Regions from separate parts of the Homo sapiens genome. Here all the other regions are linked to region 1. The links come from fine-mapping of genetic effects on gene expression. A gene starts in region 1. Each other region holds a variant in brackets. All regions are shown on one strand. Distances are between the middles of the regions.

Region 1 (11,042 bases):
CATTTTATAAGTCACTTCCCCATAGACACCATTCTATAGAAGGTCCACCCCCAATCTATGGTCTACCATCATCCCTCAGACTTACTGCAATTTGTAAGAAGAAATGTGTGAGTATGACCATTCATTCTAGACTACATCTTCTCTAGAGTCACAAGAACAGAGACCTCATCTATGTACTTCTGTGTATGGAGAACACAGCACTCCCTGCGCAAATACCTGAAGCCAAGGAATTTTTAAGATGACTAGTAGAGTTCCCACCTATTCTCCATTTATGCATACAGTCAAGGAGCCAGCAGTTCCTTGAGGCACTGTAGTTTGGTAAGGATGAAACAGGGGCAGCTACAGGGCTGCTACCTAAGATTTCACTGCTTCAAAAAGCCTGAAAAATCTTTGGTCTTGCGAACCGATCCAGAACTAGAGGTACTCAGAAAGGGGGCTGAATTCACTTACACTCAGGCTGATTTCAACACTGCCCTTAACATAGACTAAAAAACAAATTATAAAACACCTGTCAACCACATCCTCCACTTCCTAAAGTCATGGGAGTGAATTTGTGGGTATTAGGAAGAAGCTTATGCAGCTTAGTTTCTAACTCCAGTTCTAATTCTTGGCATCACCAACAACTCTGTTCCTTTGCTTCTAATTCCCACCTCTCCTTTTTGCTTCTCGTTGCCACTTTCTGTTTTCAGGCCTGACCTTTGCCAACAGCCTCCCAGGCAGCCTCCCTGCCTTTGTTTGCACCATCCACTCCTTCCCCTCACCCACTAGAACACAAGCACTCCTCAATCAGACCTTCAAAAATACTCCCTGCTATTCATGACATAAAGATGGCAACAACAGAAACTGGGGGCTCTTAGTGGGGTAGGAAGGGAGGTAAGGGTTAAAAAACTATCGGATACTATGCTCAGTACCTGGAAGATGGGATTAATCATACCCAAAACCTCAGCATCACACAGTGTACTCTCCGAATCTAAAATAAAAGTTGAAATTTAAAATAAACAAAAAACAACAACACCTGGGTTCAATGGCTCATATCTGTAATCCCAACACTTTGGGAGGCCGAGGTGGGCAGATCACTTGAGGTCAGGAGTTCAAGACCAGTCTGGCCAACGTGGTGAAACCTGTCTCTACTAAAAATACAAAAATTAGCCAAGCATGGTGACACGTGCCTGTAATCCCAGGTACCCAGGAACCTGAGGCAGGAGAATTGCTTGAACCAGGGAGGAGGAGGCTGCAGTGAGCCAAGATCACGATACACTACAGCCTGGGCAACAGAGTGAGACCTTGTCTCAAAAAAAAAAAAAAACACCAAAAATACCCCGTGCATGTTTTGCCTCTCCTGTTTATCAATCCCCATCACCTTTCCTTTGCCAGGGAAAATGAATAAGACCCTCAGCCAGGCCTGAAAGGCTGTCCCTTGCCTTTCCACCTTTAGTTGCCAGCTAATTATGAGCTATGATTACGTCTGTGCATTCCAACTAGAAAATATCATCTTCTACCCCATATGAACCTAAGAGGAGAGATTCCTCTGAGAAGTTTCCCCCGGCACAGAAAAGTACCCATGAATGAATGAATGAAGTAACTTTCCCACTCACTGTTTAAGGCCTGTATCACACTCTAGCTAGAACAATCACTAGACATCAATTTTTTCTCCTTTCTAATGTGGACATCTTAGCTTCTGGAGAGCAGGGTCTATTCCAAAAGTCTTTCTTTGAATATGCAACATATCTGGCATGGTGCCTTGCATACAGTGGACACTCAATATGTGTTTATGGACTGATCAACCATATAAAGCTCCAGGCCTCTGGCCAAAACAGGCTACAGCTATAGCTACTGAGAAGAATTTCTTATTGTTTTCAGCAAGCACTAGCTATGTCAGAGCCTACAGTAGTAAGAAAATAAACTATCCCTTGATACTGATGCTTTACAGGAAATCAGAAGCTGTGGATATTTGGAGAAAACAATAACAAAGAAAATTAATCTTTCTAAGCTCCAAAAATTATTCAACATTTAGTTTAATCCTGGCATTTGATAGAAAGCTCAAGTCATGTTCTCTTTCATCTAAACAAATTTTCATAGGAAAATACTTCCCTTTGACTATGCTACAGCTACTTCTGATTTCTCTAGAGCTGGAAAGTAAACAGGACTGGTGCTACCCTCGGCTTCACGGAGCTAATGCCTTTTCCAAAAGGAGTGAAACATACACTTCTCAGCACTCCAGATGGAGTAGATAGGAGTGAGTATTGGCCCACTCCCATTTCTATATCACAGTTCCCTCTTTCTATTATTAGTTTTCTTGAGAATATTATTTACTATTCAGTTCTGAGCTATTTCCTTTGCCTTCTGATGAACAGCTAAGCAGCCAGCTTGATAATAACCTTGTGATCCAGCTTCTTCAAATCTGCCTCACTAAGACTTGGGCTTTCTTTTGCAAAACACTAGGTGTCCTTTTAACATTGCCACCGGCCACCAGAAATTATCCAAGTGTCTAAGTGGACTTTTAAAAGGTTAAGTCCACTTCGTAGCACACCAACCAAAATTTCAATCTTATGCCTGAAGACTATCAAGTACTGTATCTACAGTTAAATAATTGTTTTAATTTGTTATTTTGCTTCACTGCAGAGCAGGGTGGTGGGCGGGTCGGTGGTTGGGTTAGGAACCAAGGAGGGAAATTAATGCAATGAAGAAAACAAATCTACAGAGATTCATCCCGAATCAGCCCCCAACTGGGATACTGGGTCAGAGCAGCCTGAAGTGTTGGTATATGCTCAGCAGTCCAAAGACATGGTTCTCAGGAATCCAGTTCCTTACAACATAACCCTAACTAGAATCTCCCTCATCCACCCCTTCCAGGACCACACATTCTAAGCAAAGAATGTCAACTAGCCAAAAGAAAAGGAAAGCAGGCCGATTTTGAACACTTTATGTCTGTGTGACCTTGAGAAAACTATCTAACTTCACTGGGGTTTCTTCATCTATGGTATATTTCATCCTCATAAAACCTCATGTGGAATTAAAATCCCCATGAGCAGATGAGAAAACCGAGAGACAGAGAGTTTAACAATTGGCCAAAGCTGCCCAAATTATCAGAATCCAAATTCTTTATCTTTCCACTTCTCAGGGCCCCTGCACTGCCCTGCCTCCCAAATATCTAAACACAAACAAGTCAATCAGTGCTAGGACCCGGCCACAGGCCCCTGAAAAGTAAAGAACTGATGCTGCCATCTCCTGTGTCCACAGCTACAATAACACCTGGTAGCCTTACAAATATTTAGATGCAATTTCAAAGTCAGCTCATAGAAAGAGGCATAAAAAAGAAAATGTATTATGGTCTTAATTCCCCTACATTTATAGTTCTCAACTGAGAATGCCAAGCCCTCAGACGCTCCCCCACGCCCTTAACAAAAAAAAATACTTCTTTTCTTCCAGTTAAGCCAAAATAAATATATGTACCCATCATTTATTCAATCAACCACATTTATGGATTACTATGGTGTCCAAGGAAGCTCTGAGCCAAAATAAAAAAGAGAAGGGAGAAGGCTGGCCTCTCCAAAGAGTAAAACCACAGCACACCCAGGGTGGGCCAGAAGCCTGGGAGTCCGCTCCTTGCAGCAGCCCAGGGATGACATGAGAAGAGTAGAAGCTGCATCAGAAAGCAACCTGCCCCCATCATTTCTGAACTTGATAAGGAAGTAGACTGGCAAGTCTTTTAATGCCAGGTCATGAATCTAGATCACAAGGAGACTTTCTTACTTGGGTGTACGGGCCTTTAGCTGACCTAATAGCTACTTCTCTACATGAAGCTACTGGAATGAAGCCCAGGCACTCTACCAACCCACTCTACCATTCCCCTCCCCTACCCACACACAGACATCACACACAGTCAATCCACATAACCTAAAGGAACTTTCAAGTGTTTCTGAGCTATTATTTTGATGCTCCATACTATTAAAACATTTAATAATAACTCTTCCAACTCTTCTAAATCACACTATTGTTCAGACCATGGAAGAAACTCAAATTAGAGGATGACAAACTAATGCCCCCTTGTCCAGCTCTGCCTAAGAAACCAAAATCTTGGGGACACACAGCCATAGATTTGTAAGTCCTTTCCTGATGACAGTAACTACCATTTTATAGTCAAGTATTAAACCTTCCCCTACATAATCATAACTTATTGCCATAACACCCTCAGAAAGTTATTATCATTGCATTGTATTGGTGAATAAAAGGAGGATCTGAGAAAGTAATTACCCAAGCTCACCCTCCTGGCAAATGAGGTTTCTAGAATTCAAACCCACCTCTGAGATCATCTTCCTACTACACTAGCCTGCCTCTATTCCCCAAAGAGACTGGCACTTAATAAACACTCTGTTAGTAATGAATTCAACCACAGGAGAGAGTAAGCCTTGGCATTTTTCTGACTGGAGGAATCTTCCTACCTGCACCCACTCTAGGGACTATATGACAATGACTTTCGGCCTCGGGAGACGGCCATCTCCACCTGAACTGGGCCCAGCACATAGGTGAGCCTTGAGCATTCCACTCTTCCCACTCTTTCTTGCCCCAGAATCCCAGAGCTGGAGCACTGAGGCAATTCCGGAACAGCATCTACTGTCTGATATGTGGGGATAGGAGTGGAAAGGGGAAAAGAACAGCTTGTGCCTTCGGGAATTTGCTCCCTGAAGTCCCTGCAGTGATTTCGTTTGTGTCTGGCTTCCTACAAACAAAGCAGAACAATGAGAGGAAGGAATACCAGGAGGCACCAGCGCTAGCTGGAAGGAGAGGAAGTTTGTGGTGCTCGCCAGCAGGGCGGTTCCCGGCCACTAGTGTACTGCAGCTGGGCAGGCACACTCCTCGCAGACCCGGCGCTCTCCAAGGAGAAAAGAAAGTTAGTGGGCTTGGGGTACGTTTCCCTTCTTTTCCTAGAAGAGGGTGGCAGGGGGGCTGGCTCAGAAAGAAACCATCACTGACCAACACTTGGGGTACTCTGTCAAAATGCTGCTCCTTCCATACTGAGTCTCTTTGCTCCTCCTCTTTCCCCCAGTCAACCTGGGGTTAAGTGGGAAGGGGAGTAAGGCAACTCCAGGGGATGCCTTCCAAACTCCGGGAGAGGGAAAGCACAGGAATTGGGAGAAGACGTGAAGGCAGAGCTTGAACTCCTATGTACCCGGTGACACAAGACTGCTCTGAGGGTGGCGCCCGCTGCTTCTCCCGGGCGCCCCGCCAGCCGCTCTCCCTGGCAGTGGCGCCCTTTCCTCGCCCTCTGCCCGCCCAAGAGCTGCTGGCCCAGAGCAGCCGCATTCCCGACCCTCCAAGGCGAAGATCCCCTGGATTCACCCCCTCACTGGCCTTTCCGCCTAACTGACTGAAACCCGGCTCCCCAGGCACAGATTTTCCAGCCTCCCTAAGAAATGAAAGGTTCGCGTGCCCTTCACCTCCCTCCCTGCTTTCCAGCGTCCTCAGCGCCTCCCCGAACAGCCAGACAGTGGAGCGCCCCGTGTTGGGGAGAGGAGGGGAGCAGACGCCTCCGAAGTTTGGAAAAGTTACACAGGGGCTGGGGACTGGGGGTAGGGGGTGCCGACCGGGAGAAGGGGAGGGTCACCTGTTGAGGGAGGGAGGGAAAGTTTGCCTGGCCCCGCCTCCTCCTCGGGGCACCCCGCTCCCAGCCGCGCCGCGCCTCCCCACCTGGCCCGCGCTCACCTTGAGGCCGCGGATCTCGCCGAGGTGCAGCTGCAGGCGGCGGTTCACCTCGCGGATGAGGTTGCTGTGGTCCAGCATCGCGCTCACCTTCTCCGCCTCGGCGCGCCGCAGGCTGCGGATCAGCTCCTCCTTGCTCCACTGCAGCAGCTCCTCGTCCGACACTTTGGACAGGTCCTCCACCGGCGCGGGCGGGGCCGCGGACGAGCCGGCCGGGGCTGGGGAACAACTTTCCGCCGCCGCCGCAGCCGCCGCCGCGCCTCCGGCCGCCTTCGACATGGTATCCGCGGGGTGGCAGGTGCAAGTGGGTGGAAGAGGCGAGGCGACTCCCGAAGGCGCGGGCGCGGCGAGGCCGCCTCCGCCCACACCCCTGTGCGCTCCGGCGAGTCAGCGGCACCGCCCAGGGGCCGCTGGGTTGGGGCGGCGGGGGTCGCGCTGGGTGGCCATCCTACCTCGCCATCCCCGCGCGCGCGCCCGCGCTCCCCCAGGGCCCGGCAGCCAGCCGCTTGCTGCTGCCGAGGCCCGTCCCAACTCCGCGCAAGTCCATGGTGAGGGGCACTGGGGAGCCCGGGGCTGCCGCGGGAAATCCTCGGGGACAGCGGGGGAGCTGCACCGCCGTTCCCCTGCCCTCTCCTCCGCCCTAAGCCGAGACTGTCGCCCCCCGCACTCTCTGCCCTGCACACAGGCGTGCACGCACACGCACTTTCCTCCCCCTTGCCCAGCTGCAGCCCCCGGCTTCTCCCCTCTCCTAGCTTGGAGGGCGCGCCGGGCACCGCGGCGCCTCCCCGGCTGCTCTAGCGACGCCGCCGCGGCTGCCCGAAGGCTGCTGCGCTCCTCCTGCCGCCTTCGCTGCGCCCGCGGCCGCTCCTAGGCTGCTCCGGAAAGCCTTCGATTTGCAGAGCGGAGTCGAGAAGGGGTGGAGGGTGGGGGACCGGCTGGAGGAGGAGCCTGGAGCTGGGGCCACCCGTAACCCGCAGCAGCTCCCGCATGGGCTGGACGCAGCTGCCACTCGACCGCTGCCCGGGCCCTCGAGGTGCGCTCCCGGCTGTCCTGCCCGGGAGGGCTGGGGGCGCGGCTCTTTCTGCGCCCGGGCGGGTGGGGCTGGAATGGGGAGAAGGTGAGGAGCTGTGGCCGCCCGGTCTTTGGGAGGCTCGCGCGCGCCACCGTGTGGCGGAAGAAGCTCCCTCCTCTGCCCTCTGCACACCGGCCTTGTCACCAGGCAGGGGAAACAGCTGCTGACCCAAATGCGAGGTGCTTCGTATTTGGAGGGATCGGGGATCAGGAAAGATGGGGTAGCAGGACCTGAGGGATAACCAGTTATTTGCACTTTGGAGAATGGGAGGAGAGGCAAATGGCAAAAACGGGGGTTGGGGAAAGGGGCAGCTTAAGAAAATCCAAATGGTCTGAAAAGGGCGAAAAGAGGCGTCAGGGCACTGCTCTTATGGGGCTACCCATCCCCACCCCCCACTCTCGCCCCACCCCTAGGCCTTTGTGTTTTCTAAAAATCCACTACTCTATGAAGAAGCTTCGGGAGAAGGTACTGGATCTTTTAAATTTTTATTTGAAAAATATCAAAGCCTTTAGGCGAAAATAAAATACCTTCATCTCCTGCTTCCTGAAACCTGGATTTTAAGGTCAGCACAGTCACCTCCCCTCGGAGCAAAGCAAGCCCCCTCAGGCAAGCTGAAATGCCAGCCAAGGAGATTTCCATTTTCTTCTATGCCGCAGGCTGCCAGGCGTTTACTGGGTCGGCTTTTTTATGATGGTTATTTCTGGAAGGAGGAAGTCTGAGTCCCTGGCTTCTATCTTTGGGCTATCCTCTTGTAAAGTTGGGTGGAATCGTCTCTGGGCTGAAAACATGCTTTTGCCTAAAGAGGTGGATGCCCTTGACCACCGCATGTTATTTCCAGTGGGGTACAGGGCCGGAAAATGGCAAGGATCTACCCCCACCGGGTTTCAGTTAACCCGGGTGCAGAGGGAATAATCTCTATCTGGTAGGATGATAATCAAAATCAGTCCCTTCACCCGCCGGTCAGTGCGTGTCCCCTATTGGGGACACTGAGACCTGGCTCCCGGGAGAGGCAAGGAAATGTGGTACTGCTTACGGTGACCAAATGGCCTTAACATTCCCCTCAGCTTAACTAAACTTTAGACAGGTTTCTTCCTAACTGTAGGCCCCAGACCTTCCTTTTCTCAGAGCATTTACTTTAGCCAACTTCCATTGGTGAATGTTTCCTCTGACCCTTTGACATGTAAATCTCTCCGCCTCTTGCTGGGTTTTACAGCCTGGGGATCTTTCTCAGGGATCTGTGAGGCATCCCTTTGAAATGTAATCATCAAGGAAAAAAGGGTCCCTATCTCCTAGTGTTTGTGGAGAGGAGGAGCCTAACTTTAATAAGTTCCAATTAGGAAACACAAATGGCCTCATTACACTGACCAACTTCCCATCCTAATCTCCTCCACTAGTCTTCTACTAGTTCCCCTCTCCCTCCCTCTCTCTCTTCCCTATTGCAATAGCCTTGAATAATTCCCCCTTGTCTGTTTAACTATATCGGATGCAATTTTTCTTTGACACCTCCAAGCCGCTCTCACGCCCACAGAAGGCTCTGCTCAACACAGTTCCTAAGACCAGTTTTGTCACAGAAAGGGAAAGTGAAGGTCAGAAAAAGATAAGTCCTATCTCTGTTACTTGTTAGTTCTTGTCCTTGAACAAACCATCCGACCTTACTGGCCCTCGGGCAGCTAATGATATGGTATACAAGAAGCGCTTGATCGAGCCACCCTACAGAAATGCAACCTTACTATTACTGATATTACATATTACATTGGGCAGCCTCTTGTCTAGAAATAGGAACCAGGACTTCTGTTTATTCCTCCATCACGGGTTCTTCAAGAGTCGTATTCTAAAATGAAACAGCCAGCCCCCTTCTCTGCTAACTCCCTCTGATCAGTTAACACCAAATAGATATGAGAAATCAGAGAGATGGCTGAGAGGAAAAATTAGACTTGTGTTGGGAAGACAAGGAAGAAGGAAAGCCAAAAAAAAAAAAAAAGTCTCCACAAATTATATACACTAGCAGTGGATTACAGTTGAGCTAGATCACCTTAAGGTTTTCATGTTTCTAATTTTGGTCATTGATTCAGAATAATAATTATCTGCATGAATGAATAATGTTGCTTCATGTTGCTAAGGTCATGTATGGTGTCAGGAGCTTCATTTGACTGCTAAAAACAGAAACTCAAAAAACAGTCACTTTAAAAAAGTCATTTATTTTTTCTCACCTACCTGGTATTCTAAAGAGAGGCAGCTGAGGGCTGGTATGGTATCTTCATGAGGTCGTCAAAATCTTAGGCTCCTTCTCTCAGCTCAGTCCCCTTTGGGATGATTGCCTCGTGTCCATAACATGGTTGGTGGAACTCTAGCCATCCAGCTACGTGTAAGGCAGGAAGAAGGTAATAACAACTGCAAAGGGGCACATGCCCCTTTAAAAACTTTTCCTGGTGGCCGGGGGCGGTGGCTCATAACTGTAATCCCAGCACTTTGGGCGTCCGATGCAGGTGGATCATTTGAGGTCAGGAATTCAAGACCAGCCTGGCCAATATGGTGAAACCCCATCTTTACTAAAAATACAAAAATTAGCTGGGCATGGTGGTGCGTGCCTATAATCCCAGCTATCGGGAGGCTGAGGCAGGAGAATCGCTTGAGCCTGGGACGCGGAGGTTGTGGTGAGCCAGGATCGTGCCACTGCACTCCACTCTGGTCGAAAGAGTGAGACCCTGTCTCAAAAAAAAAAAAAAAAATCCTGGTAATTGACCCAGTGAATTTTGTTTATGTTCTAATAGGCAGAGCTTACCATATAATCACCTCCCAGCTGCAAGGGAAGCTAGGACAGTGTTTTAAGTTGGGTATATTAAATGGAGATTTCTGAAAACCAGCCATAAATGACCCTACGTCTTTAGTCCTGATGGTTTTATATCATATAATTTTCTTCAGTCAACTCTATTTCCCCCCAGCTCACTGTTACTCAGCCTAGGTTCTCACTAAGTCTCACCTGGCCCTTCTCACTGGTCCCTCTGACTACTGCATCACCTCTCTCGAATCTGCTTTCCACACAACTTCCCAAGTGAATCATCTCAAAAAGTCAAGTCTAGCTACTTTACCCCTGAGACAGATTGAATTATTGCTGATAATTTTTCACAACCTCCCTACAAAATTAATTAACATCGGCCAGGTGTGGTGGCTCACGCCTGTAATCCCAGCTCTTTGGGAGGCCAAGGCGGGTGGATCACGAGATCAGGAGATCTAGACCACCCTGGATAACACGGTGAAACCCCGTCTCTACTAAAAATACAAAATATTAGCCGGGCGTGGTGTCGGGTACCTGTAGTCCCAGCTACTCGGGAGGCTGAGGTGGGAGAATGGCGTGAACCCAGGAGGCGGAGCTTGCAGTGAGCCAAGATAGCACCACTGCACTCCAGCCTGACGGCATAGCGAGACTCTGTCTCAAAAAAAAAAAAAAAAAAAAATTAACATCACCTTCCACCATGTGATGTTGTAGCACCTCCCCTACAGGGGGCAGTTTTTCTCCCCTCCCTACTGGTATTGAAAATCATATTGCAAGCATATGACTTGCTGTACTAACGCATGTGTGTGCACCTGACAGTGTACCCCTTCTCTGAAGAGGTCTCAAAAGGCGTCTGTCTGCCCACTCACCCGTCTGTTCTTTCCACGCTTCACCAGGAGAAGAGCTAACCTTGGGTAGCTGCTGTTCCTTCAGTCTGAGCCACACACTCAGCCACCCCAGCCAACCTGAAGATCTGCAGCATGAAGCAGAGCTATGCTCACAGACTCACAGATCTGTGTGTGAGAAAACAAGACTGTTGTTTAAGCTACCGACTTTTGGGGAGATTTATTGTGCAGCATTACTAATGCAATAGTTAGCAGATACAACTCCCCTGCCTAAATCCCTTTGGGGGCATCTCAGCACCTTTCTGTGGAGTGAAGCTACATTTCTTAGCAGAGCATGTAAGATGGACACAGTCTGATGCTTGCTTACTTTTTCAGCTCCAACTCCTACCATACTTTGCCTGCCTCATATTTCATACTTTTTCAGTTCTAAACTGCCTTGTAGCTCCCTGTCAGCATTCAATATACCTCCGTACCACACTGATGCTCTTTTCTCATGCATGAAATGCCTTCCTTGCCTTATCCTTCTGAATAACTTCCAACCAGATCCTTCAAAAGGCATCATCTTATCCAGAGTGCTGGCATCAGCCCACATTTCCCTGGCAGAGGCAAAGGTGAGTGTCCCTCTCCACTCCCATAACCTCCAGTGCATACC
Region 2 (11,042 bases), 63 kb before region 1:
GTTTTCAAGCAGAAACTTAGAAATCATCCCTGACACTTCTTCCTGTTGGTCTCTATGGCTAATCCATCAATAAGTCCTATCAATCTTTGCTCCGAAACATCTCTTGAATCCACTCTCTTCTATGCATTGCTACCATCAGCCTTGACTAGGCCACCTCCTCTCCAGCTTAGAATATTGCAATAACTTTTTTAACTAGTCTTCTCTTATTCACCCTGACCCCTATTCAATCCATTCTCCTCTCTGAGTGATCTCTTTCAAATTCAAATTTAATTCTCCCCTCCCTAACTCAGCTGCTTTTAGGATGAGATGAAACCTGTACTATGGCTCAGGAGACCCTACCACATACTGTACTAGGAGCCCTTCTCTTTCCAACCCGCTCTGGTCTTCTTGTTCTTTACATGCTTCCTGCTCCCTCCCATGAGATCTCTTGCCTGGAAACTCTTCCCTTGATCTTCACCCTAGCTCCTGTCCTACTCATTCTTCAGCTCTCAGCTCAGGCAATACTTTCCTCAAGAATCTTTTCTAGTCTCTTGCTCTAGACAAAAATCTCTAAAGCAGCTTATGGTGTTAGAAGTTTCAATCACAGTTTATCCTTGATGGGCGTAGGGACTTGAAGAAAACAAGAGGGGGCTTCTGGGTGCTGGTAAAATTCTGTTTCTTAATGTGAGTGAAAGCTACACAGGAGTGTTGAGTTTGTGCAAGTTTGCTGAGCTATACACCTATAATAAGAACAGTCTTCTTCTGTCTGTATATTTTACTTTTTTTGTTATTTATTTATTTATTTATTTATTTTGAGATGGAGTCTTGCTTTGTCACCCAGACTGGAGTGCAGTGGCGCGATCTTGGCTTACTGCAACCTCCGCCTCCCCAGTTCAAGTGATTCTCCTGCCTCAGCCTCCCGAGTAGTATAAAAGGCTTTTAAAAATACCGAGGGATGAATTCATGTCCTTTGCAGGGACATGGATGAAGCTGGAAACCATCATTCTCAGCAAACTAACACAAGAACAGAAAACCAAACACCACATGTTCTCACTCATAGGTGGGAGTTGAGCAACGAGAACACATGGACACAGGGAGGGGAACATCACACACTGGGGCCTGTCGGTTGGGCGGGGGGGCCCGAGGAGGGATAACATTAGGAGAAATACCTAATGTAGATGACGGGTTGATGGGTGCAGCAAACCACCATGGCACGTGTATACCTATGTAACAAACCTGCACATTCTGCACACGTATCCCAGAACTTAAAGTATAATAAACCTAAAAAAAAAATACCCAGAGCAGCCTGATCATAGTGCAATTCTCCTTTTACGTACTATGCATTTTCACAGCTGCAATTTTACGTTATTTGATTAACATCTGACACACCCCCATGAGAGCCTAAGCTCCACAGAAGCAGGCTGAGTTTCCCTGTCATTGACCCTACAATACCTGGCCTAGTTAAGTACTTAAAAAATAGTTGATGAGGTCAGGCGCAGTGGCTCACGCCTATAATCCCAGCACTTTGAGAGGCCGAGGCAGGTGGATCACAAGGTCAGGTATTCGATACCAGCCTGGCCAACACAGGGAAACCCTGTCTCTACTAAAAATACAAAAAATTAGCTGGGCATGGTGGCAGGCACCTGTAATTCCAGCTACTCGGGAGGCTGAGGCAGGAGAATCGCTTGAACCTGGGAGGCAGAGGATGCAGTGAGCCAAGATTGAGCCATTGCACTCCAACCCCGGGGACAGTGTGAGTCCATTTCAAAAAAAAAAAAAAATAGTTGATGATACAGCCAGGGAAACTATGAGGGGATGAAGCCCACAGAGACATAAAAGACTAGGTCAAACTGAATAGCACAGACTATCCGACAAACCTGCACGTTGTGCACATGTACCCTAAAACTTAAAGTATAATAATAATAAAATAAAATAAACACAAAGGAAAAAAAAGAAATCAGCCACCTTCTCTCCTGCTACGGGCATTCCACTTGTTCAGGGTTCTTTTCACTTCCAGTGCCCATCCTGGAGTAGTGCAGCAGAGCTTCCTGGTCCTTATCCTAAAAAGACCAAGCCCCATGATGCTCAAGAAGGCAAAAAAAAAATCAGTAAAAGGACCAAAGAAGGGAGAGTAGACAAGGAGTCCCAATAATAAGAACAGGAACAGCAAGAAGAGGCAGAGCAGGTAAAGAAGAAGAAAGGAGCTGCCACTGAGACAGCAATGAAGGAAGGAGCAAACAGACCCTGCCACCACCAACACAGACCAAGGGAGGTTAAGCCAAAGAGGAGGTTGCAACATGATACAAACAATATTTATTAATAGAGAAGGAAAAAGAAACAGCAGAACCCACAGAAAATAAGCATTTGTAGAAGAAAGTGTCAAGACTAAACAGCAACCAAACTGGCAAGGCCACTATTCCCAGAGGAAAACTCACATGAAACTCGTCAACTTTTTCCCAAACAGCAACCCTTATTTTCCACTCATATGGGCCCAACATTTTCAGATAATACATCCATGTGTTCAACAAATATTCACTAAGCACCTAATATATACCAGGCACTGGGCAAACTTGGGCTCACAAAGGATTTGCTGCCTACAGGAGAAAACAGAGCCCTCAACACAGGGCTGCCTTAAGAAAGGTCTAAAGCGACCCATACCCTTTGTTCACCCAAAGTTCACCAACACATTGTTGCAGTACTATTTATAGATCCCAGGAGATACCTCTGGGGGAGGAAAGAACTGATGAAACATACAGCACAGACAACACTAGGTAATAAAGTGTCAGACCAGAAACGTATAAAATGAATGGAAAACACAGACACACAAAAGACAGAACTAAACTAAAATGGAAGGAAAAAGAGTAAATAGAAAGGGACTCGAATGAAAGACAAAATAGCAAAGAAGAGAGGTCAGAGAGGGGTACTGGGAATATGACAGAAAGAAAAAAAAGATGACATTTACAGTAAGAGACAACTGTATCCAAAGTCTTTCAAATGTACTTCTAATATTCCCCAATTTGCTCTAGTTCAATAGATCAACTCTAGCAATGACAAATGATAACTCAATGAACAGAGACTTGATTGTTTATTAACCAAATACCTCAATTTGGGGGAGTGGTTTGATATTTTTTCAAGAAGCACACATTAGCAATTTGAATCACATTGCAACCCTTCCTATAATATGTCATTTCTGGAAACTCAGGAGAGAAATTGCCAACCACTGCTTCTCAGGAAACCCAAAATGTCCTGCCCTTGTCTCCTCCTATTCTCCCGACTCTCTCTCTCACTGAGCTTCTACCCTAGGTAAGCCGACTACCATACAGATGTCACTAGGCATTTCCTAACTTCTTTCCCCTGACCTGGTTTGTATCATCTTATCCTTGATAGGCTAGTACAATAACTTTTTCAACAATGTTCAAGCAGACAGTTTACTTTGTTTTCTAACTTCAAACTAAGAATATTTTCCAAAGGTTGCAGAGACACAGGCTTGGGTACAAAGGGTAAAACTCCACTACAGTCTCTGTGCCAATTACAGCATAGGGTCCAGGGCACATTTTTATTGCTCATGCTTGGAAAAGCACTCCAACTTAAAATCTTACTATATTTTAAGTGGGCTTACCAAAAATTAAACAGGCACCAAACTCTTAAATGAATTAACATTTGTTTTCAAATGCTTCCTGCTGTACCCAAATGCTCCTCCCATGCCCTTCACTCTCACAATAACCTCACAGTCCTTGCTTACACGTTTTAGAGGAGCAAAACCTATAAGTACACAGATATCATCTACAAAGCCCCTGCCTGCCCTTCATGGCTGCTGGCACAACTGAAGACATTTACCATTTCAAGATCCTCAAAAGCAGAGGCAATGCAAAGAATGAGGCAATGAAGCCATTTAAATATAGCTATGGCAGGGCCTGGCAATGTTACAGCAAATTAAATTTTAATGGGACACAGAAAATGCTGAACCTTCAGAAAGTTTATCAGAGGAAGGGGCATCTGAAGGACACAAATGCCCCAGGGCCCAGGTGTAGACACAGAGGAATAACTACATGCCAGGACCACTCAAGGTCAAGAATTTGCAAAATATACAGATAACCAGATGTGGGGAGACCAGCCCCTCTGCAAATTTGCTGGCTTTTACTTAGAAGGCAAAGAAAATTGATAAAAGCTACTTCGTGAAGGCTCAGAGAAAACTGATATGTAACAAGGTCAAGTTTCTGTGTCAATGAAAGATGCTGCATACGCAAAGGCAGCTGATCTAAATAAAGCTGCTGACCAATGACCCAGTGACCTCAAAGCTTCCACAGTGTGTCTTCTGAGGCTGTTCTTCAGGGACAGATTCACATATAGGCCCTGTATGGGATTGTTTTCATGTGCTTCTTCAGATTCACTCTACCCTCCTGCTCTGTACTCCAGGAGGCTGCATCAAACCAGCTTCCCTGCCTTCTAGCATCTCACTGGGCATGGCCAATAAGTGTCCCTGGCAAGGGATGGGAGCAAAGAAAGACAGAAAGTAAAGGGAGTTTCCTCCTCTTTCCCAAATGCAGTCTGTGGTCTGGCATTGGTACATCCCTCTGCCTAAGGCAGAGCTCATGTCTGGCGGCCCTGCTCCTATAGTGACAGCCACTTCCTCCCCTTGTTCCAGCAGCTCTGATCTATATGAGTTACAGCAATGGATTGTCCAGACCGCTAGCTTCCCACTGGGCTCAGTCACTGGCAAGCATCTGCAGGATATTAGACAGAAGAAGAGAGAAGGTCCTGCTATTTATTCCTGGACTTCCTCCCTCCATTGTCATCTTGGGCTGCATTCATTCCTTGACTGAAGGTCACAGTCCCGCCCTAACCTTTTCTAGAACCCCATCTGTTCTTGCCAATACAGGCACTTCCCTGATATGCTCTTTAGGACAACTATGGTAGCTAAGGGTATGGATTTTGGCATCATACTATCTGACATGAATTCTCATTTTTTCTAATCAATATCCATATGACCTTGGCCAGTGACCTTCCCTCTTCAGGCTTCCTCACCATGAGGATTCTAATGAAACCCAGTTCAGACCAGTGTCCTGACACTGAAATCATGTAGGTGGCACTCAGCTCAGCCCTGCCACGTAAAGTGCTTGATAAAAATGAACTTACTATTGTCTCCACTGTTATTTACAATTACCATGCCCTAACTCCTCACTCTGACTTCCACTATTGCCTGAAATTGCTACGTTTGTGTTGAGCCTCTGCCTTGTCGGAAGCCACTTGTTAAAACAGAAGCACCCCAGGCAGGACTGAGTCAATTGCCACAGTGGGAGCCCTAGGATGCCAGGGACTTTGAGTGGAAACTGAGGCCTCCGGAGATAGGCCAGCCACAAGGCAGAGAAGACAGCACAGGAAGGGAGGTGGGTAGACACCAAGGGCCTGTCTGCTTCCCTGTCTCTGTGAGGGCAGGCCATACTGGTACAAGGAGCATCTGAGTACACCGCTCCACTTGGCCCCTGGTTACGATGCCAGGGCTTCCCCATAACAGAAGTAAGCAAGGCTGGAGACCCAACCAAGGGAGACCGTTCCAGAGCCAGCCAACCCCAGAATACATCTTCCATCCTAAATCTATCATCCTTCCTGATGGCTGGCAGAATATTCTTTCTCTAGCGCCAATGTTTCTATGGAATATTCAGAGAGCAGAAGCATTTATCACAATGACATATCCTAACTTCCAGAAATTGAGACATCTAGAAATAGCCATCCGGGTAATATCACTTATATCCCCTGTCACTTTCTGAAATGATCCAGTGAGAGAGAAAGATAAAGTTCTGTGACTCTGAGCAGAGCAGGTAAAGCATGGGGCCCCTGACAAGTCTCCCTGCTCCCCATTGTACACTGGAGCATTTTGATAGCACTCTATCTTTTCTCTCTGAATGGCTTGGGCCTCTCTAAATAGCTTATAGTACCAGCAAAAGATTGGCCCCAATTCCAATATCCTCAAATTTTCCACTTGTTTATTTGAATCAATGTATTCTTTTCTTTGTCCTGTGATCTAAAGGAGAGAATTAAACAAGGCAGTATTTTATAAAATTGTATTAGAAGGAAAAATATATCATCTATCTTCTGTGTCCCTCATATCCCTTATGATATCTTTTTACAGGTTTAT[G/A]TTTTTTCATGGCCTAGTCTTTTCCATTTCACATTTTTATCAAAGCACAAAGGAGCCACTTTTATCAGTTGCCTTCAAAATAAGACATAGTTTGGAAACACTCAAATGAAACACTTCAACTTTAAACAAGGTGGCTTCAAGGACCCCATTTTGCTCTGTGAGCTCCTATTGCATTAAAAGCCTAAATGGTCTCAATGAGCTAGAGGAAAACACTCCAGTTACTTTAAGATTGCAGAACAACCTCCTATGAAAAGTGCCAGTTGCATGATGTATACAGGGGAAAAATTGCAGAAGGAAAATATATCTTTCAAGTGTGTTTCTTCTTTCCCCCAGGAATAAAAAAAAAGACCCATGTCTGCAATCTAGATAAGTATTAAAATAAACTTTAAATTTCTCTTCATTCACTATCACTGGATATGAGAGGGTTACTATTACTCTTCTCAAGCAACATATTTTCATTGCAACCCAATATCAAGAGAGCCCTAGTGACCACTGTGTTCTGGTTACCTTCAAATTACACTACTAACGTAGGGCAATCACTTTCTTTACACATATCCAGGACAGTCTTGGTTCCTGGGCAGAACCTGCACTATAGCATAACCACATTTTGAGGGGACATGATTTAGAGTGCAAAACATCTGAATCTTCATAATAAAAATATCATTGAGTGAAAATCTTATGAATTTTCATAGAAAAATGTTGAAAATTATAATAATCACAACTCCTTCAAGAACTTCACACATACTTGGATTGTAAGGATGATTGGAATGAACTGTCCTTTCTCAAAATAAATATATTTTCAAACCATGAAGCCAGAAGTAAAAAGTCCTGAAACCATCAACCTCTGAAACAGGGTAGAAACCTATCCAACAAGTGAAATTTTAGCTCTTTATTTTATTTTAAAGAAAAGATCAATAAAAGAAATCTGTGCATTGGAAAATAAGATGTTCAAACCTAAGCTAATTATAAACATACAGGTCAACTAAATATAATTGAGTCAGAAATAAAACCTCTCATTTATGGTCATATGATTTTCAAAAACAGTGTCAAGGCAATTCAATGGAGAAAGGACAGTCTTTTCAACAAATGGTGCCAGAACAACTGGATATCCACAAAAAAAGAATCAAGTTGGAACTCTACCTCATACCATATACAAAAGTTAACTCAAAATGGACCAAAGATCTTAAAAGTAACAGGTAAAACTATAAAACTTTTAGAAGAAAACATAGGCATAAATCTTCATGACTTTTGATTATGTGGGGTTTTTTTTTTAGATATGACACCAAAAGCATAAGCAAATAAAAACTGGATTTCACCAAAAAATGTTTTTATGCTTCAAAGGACATTATCAGGAATGTAATAAGACAATCCACAGAATGATAAAATGTACTTGCAAGTCATATTTGATAAGCAACTTGTATCTAGATTATATTAAGAACTTCTATAACTCAAACATTAGAGACAAATAACTTGGGCCGGGCGTGGTGGCTCACTCCTATAATCCCAGCACTTTGGGAGGCTGAGGCAGGTGGATCACCTGAGGTCAGGAGTTCAAGACCTGCCTGACCAACATGGTGAAACCCTGTCTCCACTAAATACAAAAAATTAGCCAGGGATGGTGGCACATGCCTGTAATCCCAGCTACTTGGGAGGCTGAGGCAGGAGAATCACTTGAACCCAGGAGGTGGAGGTTGCAGCGAGCCAAATAACTTGTCTTAGTACGTTTTCAGCTGCTATAACAGAATACCTGAGACTCGGTAATTTATACAGAATAAAAATTTATTTCTCCCAGTTCTGGAAACTGGGAAGTTCAAGATCAAGGAGATGGCATTTGGTCTGGTGAAGGCCTTCTTGATACATCCACACATGGCAGAAGGGCAAGCTGCCCAAATGCTATATGAAGCCTCTTTTATAAGGGCCTTAATAGCCTCATGGCTATTAAGAGGTCTCACCTCTTAGAGACCCCACCTCCTAATACCATCACATTGGCAACACTTGAATTTTGGGAAGGGCATATTCAAACCACAGCACAACCCAATTTAAAAATGGGCAGGAAGAGAAAGGCAGAGTAAATGGCCAAATAGAAGCCTCCACCAGTGGTCCCCCTTGCAGAACACCAAATGTGACAACTATCTATGCAAAAAAGCAACTTCATAAGAACCAAAAATCAGGGAAGCAATCACAGTAGCTGGTTTTAACTTAATATCACTGAAAGAGGCACTGAAGAAGATAGGAAAGATAGTCTTGAATTGCTGAGGCCACCCCCTCCTCCATCCCCTGGCAGAGGCCATGTGGCATGAGGAGGGAATCTGTGGGCTTGTGGGAGGTAGAGCAGGCAACTGCAGGATTTTGGAATTCAGTGCTGCCAACACTGGGCAGAATTCAGCTGGTGCTCATAGAGGGAGCATTTAGACCAGCCCTGGAAAGAAGGGAATCACCCATCCCAGCTGGTGGAACTTGAGTTTCAGCAAGCCTCACCACTGCAGGCTAAAGTACTGTGGGATTCTAAATAAACTTGAAAGGCTGTCTAAACCACAAGGACTGCAACTCCTGGGCATGTCCTAGTGCTGTGCTGGGCTCACAGCCAGTGGACTTGTGGGGCACATGACCTAGTGAGACACCAGTCAGGGTGGCTAAGGGAGTGCTTCTGTCACCCCTCTACAAGCACAGGCAGCACAGCTTGCAGCTCCAAAAGAGACCGCTTCCTTCTGCTTGAGGAGAGGAGAAGGAAGAGTAAACAGGACTTTGTTCTGAAAGTTGGATACCAGCTCAGCCACAGTAGAACAGGGAATCCGGCAGAGTTGTGAGGCCCCCATTCCAGGCCCTAGCTTTCAGATAACATTTCTAGAAACACCCTTGGCCAGAAGGGAACCCACTGCTTCAAAGGAAAGACTCAATCCTGGCAGGATTCATCACTTGCTGACTAAAGAAGCCCTTGAGCCCTGAATAATTAGCAGCAGTAACCAAGTAATACACACTGTGGGCCTTGGGTGAGACTCAGATGTGCTGGCTTCCAATGTGACCCAGCATATTCACAGCATATTCAGACTGCAGAGAGCCTCCTTCTGCTTGAGAAAGGAAAGGGAAAAACAGAGGAGACTGTGTCTTACAGCCTAGGTACCAGCTTATCCACAGTAGGGGAGAGGATCCTGCAGTCTCTTAGGGTCCCTGGTTCCAGGCTTTGGCTTTTGGATGGCACTTCTGTACCTACGCTGGGTCAGAAGGGAGCCTAAGTCCCTGAAAGGAGAGTCCCAGGCCTAGAAGCATTCAGCACAAGTTGACTGAAAGGCACTTGTACCTTAAGTGAATTGTCAGTGGTACCCTGGCAGTACTTCCCACGGGCCTGCAGTGGTGGTAGGCATAGGCAGTGATTCCTCTGCTGGCGCAAGGGGAGGGAAGAGTGGCAGAAACTTTGTCTTGTGGTTTCAGGGCCAGTTTAGCTGCAGAATAGAGCACCAGGTAGATTTCTATGGTTTCCAACTCCAGGCCCTGACTCCCAGACATCTCTGAACCTGCCTAGAGCCCAAGGGAATTTTCTGCCCTAAAGGGAAAGACACAAGAGTAGCTGGATTTACCACCTGCTGATTGTAGAGCCCTAGTGTCTTGAGTGAACATAGGCAGTAGACAGGTAGTGGTTATAGTGGGCCTTAGGCAAGACCCAGTACTGTGCTGGCTTTAGTAAAGAAAGAAAGAGAGAGAGACTCTATTTGTTGGAGACAAAGTAAGGCAGGAGAACAAAGATCTTGCCTGGTAATCCAGAGAATTATTCTAGAACTTATCCAAGACCACCAAGGCAATACCTCTATGAGTCTGCAAGAACTATGGTATCACTGGGCTTGGGGTGTCCCCTAATGCAGACACAGCTGCAGTGACCAAAATCAAAATACCAAGGTCCCTTCAAATACCTGGAAAGCCTTCCTAAGAAGGATAGGTACAAACAAGTCCAGACTGTGAAGACTACAGTAAATATCTTCTCTTCAATGCCCAGATGTCGAACATCTACAAACATCAAGATCCTGCAGGAAAACATGACCTCACTGAACAAACTAAATAAGGAACCAGGGGCCAAGCCTGGAGAGATAAAGATATGTGACCTTTCAGACACAGAATTCAAAATAGCTGTTTTCAGAAAACTCAAAAAAATTCAAGATAACACAGAAAGGTAATTCAAAATTCTATCAGATAAATTTAACAAAGAAATTGAAATAAATAAAAAGAATCAAGCAGAAATTCTGGAATTGAAAAATGCAACTGACATACTGAAGAACGCATCAGAGTGTCTTAATAGCAGAATTGATCAAGGAGTGGAAAGAACTAGCAAGCTGGAAGACAGGCTATTTGAAAACACACGGAAGAGAAAAAAGAAAAAAAGAAAAAAAATGAAGCACTCCTACAACATCTGGAAAATAGCTTCAAAAGGGCAAACCTAAGAGTTATTGGCTTTAAAGAGGAGGTACAGAAAGAAACAGGGGTAGAAAGTTTATTCAAAGGGTTAATAACAGAGAACTTCTCAAACATAGACAAAGATATCAATATTCAAGTACAAGAAGGTTATAGAATACCAAGCAGATTTAACCCAAAGAAGATTACTTCAAGGCATTTAATAACTAAATACCCAAAGATCACATATGAAGAAAAGATCCTAAAAACATCAAGAGAAAAAAAAACAACACAGAAAGGACAGTCTTTTCAATAAATTGTGCTGGGAAACCTGGATATCCACTTGCAGAAGAATAAAACTAGACTTCAATCTTTCACCATTTTCAAAAATCAAATCAAAATAAAGACTTAAGTCTAATACCTCAAACTATAAATTACTAACAGAAGACATTGAAGGAATTCTCCAGGCCACTGGACTGGCAAAAATTTCTTGACAAATACCCCACAAGCAGAGGTACCCAAAGCAAAAATGGACAAATCAGATCAC
Region 3 (11,042 bases), 180 kb before region 1:
TTTGGACATCTTCTTCCTCTATACTTTGGATCCTTTGGAATCAAATGGTTCCAAAATTAAGGAGTTATAAAAGGAAGCTCCTCTTTCCTGAGTAACCCTGGTCCTCTACTCTTCTCTTTTCCTCCTGGTACCACTCTTATGAATGCTTTTCAAAAGATTTCTCAGGTTATACAGAATTCGCTTCAAACTCTTGTTTAGGACCCACCATTGCAGTGCCATATTTCCTCTGACTTAGAAGTCATATTTCCTCTAATTTAGAAGGCAATAAACCTTCCCACTCTGAGCTACTTCCTTCCTGTTTTTACTTTCAAATCCTTTTCTGCCCAGCCTTTCTGCTTCAAATGTTCTCTTTCCAGACCTGGTAAAAAGATAAGCGTATCAATAATACCATCCTTTTGCTTGGGCATGGGCCTCTATCGTTCAGGGCATTTTGGTTTCAGAGAACTTCTAAAAATCAATGTAAACAACATCCTTAAACCAAATCATCTGAGCCATTTTCCATTGTTTAAATGTAAACAAAGTCCTGTTCTGGCCATATCTATTAAAAAACACACTTTTTTTTTTTTTATGAAAGTAGTTTTCTTTAAAAAATGGGATGGGGGCTACAATAGTATTTTGCCTGGAGTATACAGTGGGGGGAAATTCATCATTTAGGGATGAATGTTATACTTCAAACTAGCTTTGGGAGCCATGGACTACAAATCAACCAGAAAGATCAAGGCTTATATTTTATTTTGTTTTTGTGAAGCCACAAAGGTAACCAAGTGCCTGGTGAAGTTTACTTCCAACAGATGTTAAATAATTTTTCTAGACTGCAATAACAGAATGAAGCACCTCATTCTACTATATCTCATTTAGTACTATAAAATAAAAGGTTAGTTTTCTATGCGCTTAGCAGAATCAGACCAATATTTGGAGAATTATGAGGGTTCAATTTACATATACTCTCAGTCGACTAATACATTTTCACTGAACTATTTAAAAAAATATGCTACTGAGCCAAACAGGGAATTTAAAAAGAGAAAAATCTTACTAAAACTGGAAATGTGATTTCCAGATTAAGTGGCTTGTTTTCAAGCTACACATGATCACACAGTGCATGCATCACCTCTCAGTCAGTAGACAATTTTAAAGGGCAAAGGAGTACTTTTCTGAGCTTGTCTAGAGACATGATTTTCAAGACCACTGACCTAAACTCCTTTTATCATGAAATGTCCAGGGTACTTTTGTTCTTCTCTCCTGCATGCGGTTGCTCAACTTTCACCCCCAGATGTGGGGGAAAAAAACAAGAAAACTGTTTAGGAGGTGAAAAATTCTACTCCCATCCTCCCTCCCCAGACTTAGACATACAACTTTCTTTCATGTGTATGAACTTGTTTTCTACCCCCCAGTATAACTTTTTCTCTAGCAACAGAAGTCATCTGGTTATGCACAAGCAAATGCATCCAGCTGACTCATCTTCACTCACCGGGAGAGTAGGCAGGCATCGTCCTATTCCTCGGCACCCTTGCCACCACTGCAAGACCCGCCGGGCTCTGGACCCCCAGCCTTTCTCCATATTTGAGCTGTTTCTAGTTGGAGGTTGCCTTCTATTCTGGCTGGCCTTATATTTGGAACAATATGGTACAATCACTCAGAAAAATACTGTTTCCCAAGTCTCAAGAAAGCAGATAGAACATGAAGCTTAATGAGATGAACCACAATGACCACAATGGCAAGCTGTAACATGCACCTGTAGCTAGGGAAAAAATAAAAATAAAAACAATCTGAAGTCCTACATATTAGACCTAATCCTGATTTAAGTTTCTGGTAAACATATAACTACATTATAAATTCTATCAAAAAGTAGACGATAAAGTCAAAATTACAGAAAAAACTTGAAGGTATTTAAACAACTTTATTTTATGGGTTTTACCAGCATAAAATAATAATATGCTTTACCTGGATATTATACAGAAATAAACTACATAACTTCAGAACTTAACAAAAGTTATTTGAAATACAATTGGGAGCACTATGCCCTTTTGTTAAGAAGTGAAATTTGGGTATACATATTCAATAATACTGAGAAAATTAAAACTGCATCAAATTTTTAACAAAATTTCTGCATGTTGAAGAGAATGTAATGAGCTAAAAGGTCATCACTGCATTAAAATAAATATTTTACATAGAAAAATCTACATAATCATCAAACTTTGTATTCATAAGTTAACTAAATTTTTATGTATTTATTAGAACTAGAGGCATCACATAATTGAAAAGAAAAAAGTCCTTAATTTTAGCTTTTTCCATCACCAAACTGTATAATCCTATTAAAATGATCAGAAACAAAATGAACTTATTAGAACATGATTTCCTCTCCTGCCAACTTTCACAGAGACCTATAACTAAGAATATAATGTCCCAAGGAATAAGAAAATAATTTTAATAATTTAATAATTTTAATTATGGAAAATACGCAAAATGGTCCCAAAATTCTAGTGTCTAAATGTTGAGGTTGACTTTAGAAGACTGAAAATAAGAACATAAAATTTTAATTCTCATCAATTCATTTTTTTTGAAGTTAGCGGCCTATATCTGAATAGTACTGGTCCAATTTTCACTCTTCTCTAACTTTTGGAGGTTGAAAAAAGAAAATGCACCATGGTCTTAAGTGAAGTAAGAAAGAGAAGAAATAATGACCAGTAGTTGGTACTCACAAAACTCTTTTCTGAACCTATTAAATTGGCACCAGTGACCTATAAAAATAAGTCACACATACTCTACTTCTCACGTATAACAGAGGCAATTATATATTTGCACTTGGGTCATAATGATAATTTCATCATAGCAACATTAATTTGAACATTGCTCTTTTGATAATTAGTCCATGTGTAGTGTCTAATTTGTTTCCATCATCAAAAGAATTATCTCCAAAAATTTATAACATGATTCACAGCTTAATACTCACCTCCCACCCCAATCTGCATAATTCTATTTCTGAGATGATCATTAATGAGTAATGCAAATTTTATAATTATTTTTACAAATAAGGAGATCTAGTATCTGAATTTGATTATTTCCATAACATGCACCTCTCAGATCTTATCCTTTTTGGATTTAACAACTGAGTAAAACATATAGGCATTCTACTTTCATTCTTTCTTAATGTGTAGCAAGGCTAAATCCCAATTCCTCTCCATTGTAACAAAGCTTATCATCATACCCATGAAATCTAAGGTAGGATCTATGCCAACTTAGAAGCCAGCTGGCATGAGCGCCATTTAGCTACTATGTAGAGAACTCACAATAATTTCCAACTTTCAGAAAGTAGATACTACATAAAACAATAGCTATACTTTAAGTATTATAAAATGTTCCTTTAAAATATATTAAATATGTATTTTATAGTATTATTAATCTCATAAGGGGGAACAATAAACAGGGGCCAGATCTTTGTGGAAGAATAAACTGATGATATAACCATTTTAAAGGAAAAGGCACTCTTTTAGAACCAGGATTAATTAATTTTCTCCCCATGTCAGCATATATATTTTTTTAATCTAGGTATATAGAAAAGTGTGTTCTGGGCCAGCCATCATCATTAACTTTCAAATAAACTACATCAAAATGGTATTTATACACTAATGAAGGCTTAGTGTTTCGCAGGGCCTACAATCACCAATTACAGTGTTTGCTGAAGACAGTTTCATAAAACGTAAGAAGCCTTCAGTAATTCAGTCGTTAAACTTGTTTCTGGCAACTTGGGGGCTCAAAATGGTGGAACTCAGATTCTGGTCACTAATTGGGAGAACAATTCCAAACAGTCTTAAGATCGTCACTTCCTATTTTCTGAGGAATTCTGTTTCACTTAGTTTTGTTTTCTGTAGTTTTCTAAAATTCCAAGTTTGTGAAAAAGAATCCCTGAATGACCCTAACACTCCCATTGTGTGAGAAGTAAATTATAGATTACTTACTCTGTGGTAAGTACTCACAGAAATCATAAAAGAATATGAAGAAGTATGAATCACTGAGTCTCTTTAAGTTTCGCTATAACTGTACTAGTCAATAGTTTTTATTCCTTGAAAACTCTGGAAACTTCTATAGAGGTAATAGTGTAGGGTTTTTCAGAAAACGAAGTATTTCAAAAATTTGTGAGGAGGAAAGAAGAGTGAAAATCAAGTACTGAAAAGAAGAAAAAGGGGGAAATGGGAAATCCGAACTGTACTTCTCACTCACCAGGCATCTCAGCGAACTTCAGACACACATAAAGGTTCCTCTTGAATGATGAACAGAAAAAGTCCCCAAGAACTATTTGTTGGAAACCTCAGTAATAAAGTATGAAGTGACCTATGTTTTAAGCTAAGAAGAATAAGTCAGCCTGACTTGAAGACTTTTACCTTGCTGACTTTGAAAGGCATAAAGATGGGCAAATGAATTCACATATGGACATTTGCATGGGTTTAGCATGAGTCATAGCCTTTAGTCCTCAGGACTTTCGGGGTCAGATTCTGGTTAGTTCTTCAAACTTCAACAGGGTATAAAATTCTCTGTACTTAAACATGAAATCAACATGAAGTTTTGAACAACTACATCTGCAACATTTTCTCTTCAAACTACGACCATTCTAATAATAAATAGTTCTCATCTATTTATTTAAAGACGTACAACATTCTCTAAGACATTATAGTTTATCTTTCCCTTATTGCTCACAATGAGCTATATATGTAAATGAAGGGAATAAAAACCAATTTTGCAAAAAAATAGACCATTTAACTTTTTTACACTGTCGTGTTTCTTTTCTCAAATTTGCGTGAATTAAGTGTTACTGTTCCTCATAGAAATAATGAAAAACACTAAGAAATGTCCAATATTATATGTTATCTAAAATACATGAATCACAAAACGATGATCACTCAGAATTTGATGTGTGATCTCTGCAGTAGGGAAAATTACCTAAAAAATAAAGCTCCTAGAAAAATCCTTTATAATGTTTTAATTAGTAATGAAGTCAAGGAAATTTTTTAATTTAATGAAAATTCTTCCTAAAAAAAGTTTTGTTTGCACGCCAGAAAAATGGAAAACAAATATACTGAGTTTCTTATTGAATATATACATATACATATATGTACATATGTATGTGTATATATAAAAATATATATGTACTATATAAATATTTCCAATTGACTAAAACTCACATTCAATAGAGTAATACTGTAGTGTTACATAAAATAGTTTCTCACTTTGATATAAATCAGATGTAATGCACTTATAACAAATTTGAGACCCCAGCCCTCTCATTCACTATAGAAGGCCAACTACGGAAGCCTGAAGATTGATCAGCTAAAGTGGTTTCCTGTTACTTAAAGATGCTTAATTTTTTATAATTCCTGAACTTGGTTAAACTATCATATAATATTTAATACCTCATCAGAGTGTATGCCTAGTTTAAGGGGGAGGATAAATTCAGTTTTCCCTTATTACAGGGCAAGGCAGATACTTTGCTTAATCTCATCAGGGAAATAATATTTTGTTCAGTTTGGCCAATCTTCATTCTGACATATTGTAAAACTGTCCTAGCAAATAAATAAAAGCTCTGATTAGAAGAGATTTTAAAGGTCACCTTGGCAAACCCTCTCCAAGAGATTCTTGTGCATAGGCTTAGAAATGCTAAGACCCTCTTGCCTTACTCTAATGTTAATATTTAGTCGGTTATATCCAAAGAAAAGTGCATTTTTCATTTAAATTAACTAAAGAATCTATTCAATGCTGATGTAAAATAATAAGTAATTTCCTGGATGTATAGTCATTCATTTATTCACTTAACAAACATTAATTTAGTAACTATCAGACGTGATATTGCATGCAATGCCATATAGATACCTATTCCAACGAATTTTTGTTGAAAGAGAAACACAGTGAGTTCAAATCACAGACTCCAGGGTCGCAGTGCCGGAGTTTAAATTCTTGATCTGACACTTATGAGCTGCATGACTTTGGACAAGCTATATGGCCTTTCTGTGCCTTAGTTTCCTCATCTATACAGTGTAAATAATAATGGTAAAATGGTACGGTCACTCTATGGGCTTGGAAACTTACATGGAAAGAGCTTTTAAAACAGTGTCTGGCCCACATAAGTGCTCTATAAGCATTTGCTGTCCTTATCATGAATGTTTTTGCTTTGCTTGTCAACATATTTTATAACTTGTCAATTTATGTCCGAATGTTTATTATTGAGAGTGTCAGTTCTCATTGGGGGCGGGGGTGATTTGGCCCCCAAGAGAAAACATTTGGCAAAAATGCCTGCAGACATTTTTACTTGTCAAAACTATGCAGTTTCTACTGGCATTTAGTGGGTAGAGGCCAAGGATGTTGCCAAATATCTTAAAATGCACTGGACAGACCCCTCACAAAGAAAGGATTATCTAGCCCAAAATGTCGCTATAGCTGAAGTTGAGAAACCCTGATTTAGAGAAAGAGAACTATGTTGGGAAACTACAAAGCAAAATTTCTGGTGACAGCTCTATAGCAGATTTTGCATATGAGGACATGTTGCCCACAGGATTTGGAGCTTGAAAGGATTTAGAAGGAAACTCCTTAAGCTTCAGCCCTCAAATGGTCTAAGTATAAAGGCAGCCACATTTCCACCCCCAAATAAGAAATTACTCCAATAAAAGAAACAGAATTGAAAATACCCATATCATCCTACTGTAACAACACTAGCAGAAAGAGAATACGCTGTGGGCAGGCACAGGGCAGTGGTCCAAAGGAAAGAGTTCTTGAGATAGAGACATATAGTATGCTACAGTACCTAGAAAATCGTGACACCAGTCCCACATAGAGAATACAATTGGCAGAAGGGGCTCTGTGGAAATTATGGAAGATCATAAAGCTTACTTAACAATTTGCTGGGCAAAGATTCTGCACTTAACTTGAAGCAGTCACATTAGGAAAGAATAAAATTGCCAGCAAATAGAAGTGGGGGCCCTGACACATGAAACACATCTCAGTGCTAATGAAAGCATTATAAGATAATGGCAAAAGATTAAATAGATAAAAAGATAAAAGAGAGATTAAATCATAAAAGATGAAAGAAATAAGAAGGAGAAATCTGGACCAGGAGGCGACTACTCTCTGCGTCACATGTGGTGAAGGATTGTAGCCTATGTACAGACTCCTCGGCAGGCAGAGGACTTCTTGA[G/A]GGCCTGTTTTTGACATAACAGCTCTCAATCACTAAGCTCCTACCACGTTAGCACTACCCTAAGTGCTGTCCATTAAAAGATTAATAAAACTGGCTAATGTGAGTTCCTAAAATGCTGGGTGAATATCCAAAATATAGAAATAACTCAAACATCTCAATAGCAAGGAAACAACCCAATTGAAAAATGAGCAAAGGACCTGAATAGACATTTCTTAAAAAGAAGACATACAAATAGCAAAGGATTTATGCAAAAATGCTGAACAGTTCTAATCAAGAGAAAAATACAAATTAAAACCACAATGAGATCACCTCATGCCTTTTAAAATGACTATTATCAAAAAGACAAAAGATGTGTTGGCAAGAATATGGAGAGATGGGAACCCTTGCACACTGCTGGTGGGAATGCAAATAAGTATAGCTATTATGGAAAACAGTATGAAGTTCCTTCAAAAAATTACAAGTAGGACTACATATGATTCAGCAATCCCACTACTGGGTATACATTAAAATTAAACAAAATCAGTATGTCAAAGAGATATCTGCACTCCCATGTTAACTGCAGCATTAGTCATAATAGCCAAGATATGGAAACAACCTAAGTGTCCATGAATGGATGAATAAAGAAAATGTGCTATCTATATATACAACAGAATACTATTCAGCCTTAAAAACGAAGGAAATCCTGTCACTTGTCACAACGTGGATGAACCTGGAGGACATTACACTAAATGAAATAAGTCAGGCACAGAAAGATAAATACTGCATGATCGTACTCATATATGAAATCTTAAAAAAAAAGTTTATTTCTACTTAGAGAGGAGAAAGGTGGTTACCAGGAGTTGAGGGGATTGGGAAGGAGAAGGAAATGTCTGTCAAAGGATACAAAATTTCAGTTAGACAGGAGGAATAATTTCAAGTGATCTACTGTACAGCATGGTGACTATAGTCAATAATTTATTGCATTCTTGAAAAATACTAAGAAAGTGGATGTAAAGTGTTCTCACCCAAAAATGATAACTATGCGAACTGATGTATATGTTAATTAGCTGTATTAAGTCATTCCACGATGTCTAATACTTTAAAACATCATGTTGTACACAGTAAAGATGTAATTTTATCTATAAATGTAAAAAAAGTTTTTTTAAAGATACTAACTGTGGGCCTGGTAATGTTTTCAGTAATTTATACCCCAGAGTGATTTTTCCTTCTTTGGGTCCCAGAAGTCTCCTTCTAGTCTATGCACTCATTCTTTGGCTCCTGGGTTACAGAGAGATCCAGATGATCCTAGGGAGGGTCAGATTGGTTGGAATAGCTCAGCAGCCTTCGAAGGAACTGGATTAGAAGCATGTTAATATGAATAACTGATACAGATGAACTGCTACACACCAGATTAACATCAGCTCTGTGCTCATTTGACCTTCTCCACTCCAGGCACATAACTGTGGCTGCAACCATTACATAAAATGTGTATCTATCCTAATAAACAAATGAAAGTAATATTAATTCACACACCCCTCATTTATTATGCCAAATAATGGCTGAGATTGATGTCTGTGGAGTCACAGTGGACGTAGTAAGCAGCTTCAATTCAGAGAACCAAAAATCTTAGGCTGCTGACATGTTCAGGAAAATAAAATTAGTTCTATCTTCCTGTAGTAGAAGGATGTGAGCACAGGATATGAGGCCCAGAGTAGCAAAAGCTGAGTCCAACATGACATGCAGGAGTTGCATGGGAAATCTCCCATGCCGTAAGAAGGATTTGAAATTTATTCTATGTGGAGCCACAGATGTAACAGAAACTGATTGGTGGTGGACAGATTGATCTGGTAATAGTGTGGAGAATGATTTGGGTGAGGCCAGACTACCTGGGATGAAGTTCCAATTAGGAGATCAACAAAGAATTTGAAGGGAAAAAAAGTATTACTTATTGCCTACACTGGAAAATAGCAGAAGAAATTAAAAGGACAATATTGATGGATTAGAGGGCAAGACCCTATGAACTTTAATGTCTATTTGAATGTAGGCAGTGAGGTTGAAGGAGTTATCCAGGATGACTATCAACTTTCTGGTTAGGTACTCGCTAAATGGTCATGCTATTAACCAGCATAGAAAATACCGGGGGAAGTAATAGATCTAACTCTTTCATCAGATTTTTAAAATCAAGATCAAAGAAGTGATTAATAATGCAAAGCCCTCAAGCATTCTTTGTCACGAATACCCTCCAAAAGGTTTTCTCCTGACATGTGAAATAAGAGAGTTTGCAAAACATTTAAATTTAAAATGATATTAACTTCATGCAGTGCTCACTGTATCACTGATGAAAATATCTCTGCAAACAATAAAATGTTATTGGAAGGAAAAGAAAGTAATTTTGAAATACCTGTTCCTCCAGGTGAAACTTACAGATACAGAAATATAGTTCCCAGAAAAAATAAAACGAAATAAAAGTAATAATTACAGAAGGTTAGCAGGATGCCTTTTTACAAAAATTACAAAGGGCAAACCCCAGGAAGAAAAGAATTAATATCTTTTGAAAGGGCTAAGACAGAAAACACCCAGTGTCTCTGTAGCCAGAGTGACGGCAGATAAAGAATAACATTGAAGGCCTGGTTGAAAAAAAGAAAAAGAGGCTGTTAAACAATACCTAGGAAACATAGGCAACTACTTCTAGGCAATGAGTCTATATGCTTAATACTTGACTTTTATTAACTATAGAACTCCCAGTGAGAAACACTGAAATTCCTACAGAAAAAGACTGATACTTCTAAATTGCTTTTCAATCAGGCTGGTATTAAATAGTAAAAGGTTATGGCATTGTTGCTGAGAACATATCTGAATACTTTCAGGTTTTGGGCTTATTTTTTAAAAGGGAGAAAAGGAAAGCACAAGTAGGACACGGAGCGTAAGGGCATGGAGCTGAATTGCCAGTATGGATGCAATGGCAAAGAAGTAATGCTAATTAACATTGCATCTGACTTGCAGACCAGAGCCGATTAATAATTGTGTTAAACACCTCAGCATGCTATCAGGGCCCAGGGGAACACATGCACAGAACTAGAGCCCCAGGAACTAAACAGTGACTTAAAATAAATATTTGCTGAATTGACTAAGAAATATTCCACTGTGAGGTGGTGTTTGCTGCCCTAGCTTTGGCAAAAAGAAGGGTCTTAGGTTCTTTGATGAATCTTCTAGTATATGAAGCTCCCATGCAAAATGGGAAAGTCAAGACAAGAGAGAGGTCAATAGAGAAGCAAGAAGAGTCAGCTTCTTGTATGTATCCTTACAGCTACCTATCTAGGATACATACAATAATACAAACAAACACAGCTACCAGTTAGGCTGTAGGTCTACCCATGCCACCTGCTGAAAGATCTATCATGGAGCGTTAGCAATGATCTTATGCTTAAATGTTTACAGAAACGAGAGTAGCCAAAATGAATCCAGAATCCAGGCAGTGTAGCCTTTGCATAATTGGTAGTAGTAATATCTCTGGCAGGGAAAAATGAAATCCACCATCAGCGAGACCATCATCAAAGCACAAAAGGAAGCATCATGGAAGCATGAGCTCTTATTGTCACAAACAGCTCTTACTGGAAAGGAAGAAAACAAAGAGATTTTAAAAATATGTTTATCTGTGCCCTACCTTCTTATAAAAAAAATACGATGGAAAACAAGATTTTTTTATTCAAACTATATATACACTCATTTAACTGAATCATATTCAAAAGGATAAGTCTAGGGCACAGAGAGTTAAAACAAAATATAAAACATCTTTGCAAAGTCAGTCCATTGAAGTAAGTCCCAAAATCATCCATACCTCTGGGAGACTAAAAAAGCTAAATGGGGCCGGGAGCAATGGCTC

The links. PIP is the estimated chance that this variant, and not a neighbour inherited with it, causes the effect.
Region 2: its variant is the best candidate, but not a certain one, in a credible set for the expression of CCDC85A in thyroid (GTEx, PIP 0.65).
Region 3: its variant is the best candidate, but not a certain one, in a credible set for the expression of CCDC85A in blood mononuclear cells (TOPMed, PIP 0.81).

What each region holds. Positions count from the first base shown.
Region 1 is chr2:56,179,562-56,190,603 of GRCh38, reverse strand. CCDC85A (coiled-coil domain containing 85A) reads right to left here and starts at 6,614. Exons shown (of 6, transcript NM_001080433.2): 1 at 5,704-6,614. The coding sequence starts at 5,979. It overlaps LOC100129434 (a long non-coding RNA gene), which reads left to right and starts at 4,834. Exons shown (of 3, transcript NR_125368.1): 1 at 4,834-4,906. RefSeq lists a silencer at 6,615-6,944.
Region 2 is chr2:56,242,770-56,253,811 of GRCh38, reverse strand. All of the region lies in intron 2 of CCDC85A (coiled-coil domain containing 85A), which reads right to left. Among named protein-coding and RNA genes, the nearest start is that of CCDC85A, 64 kb to the right of the region's middle. The variant G/A (reference allele first, on the strand shown) is at 6,116.
Region 3 is chr2:56,362,905-56,373,946 of GRCh38, reverse strand. CCDC85A (coiled-coil domain containing 85A) reads right to left here. Exons shown (of 6, transcript NM_001080433.2): 4 at 1,469-1,603. Among named protein-coding and RNA genes, the nearest start is that of CCDC85A, 180 kb to the right of the region's middle. The variant G/A (reference allele first, on the strand shown) is at 7,181.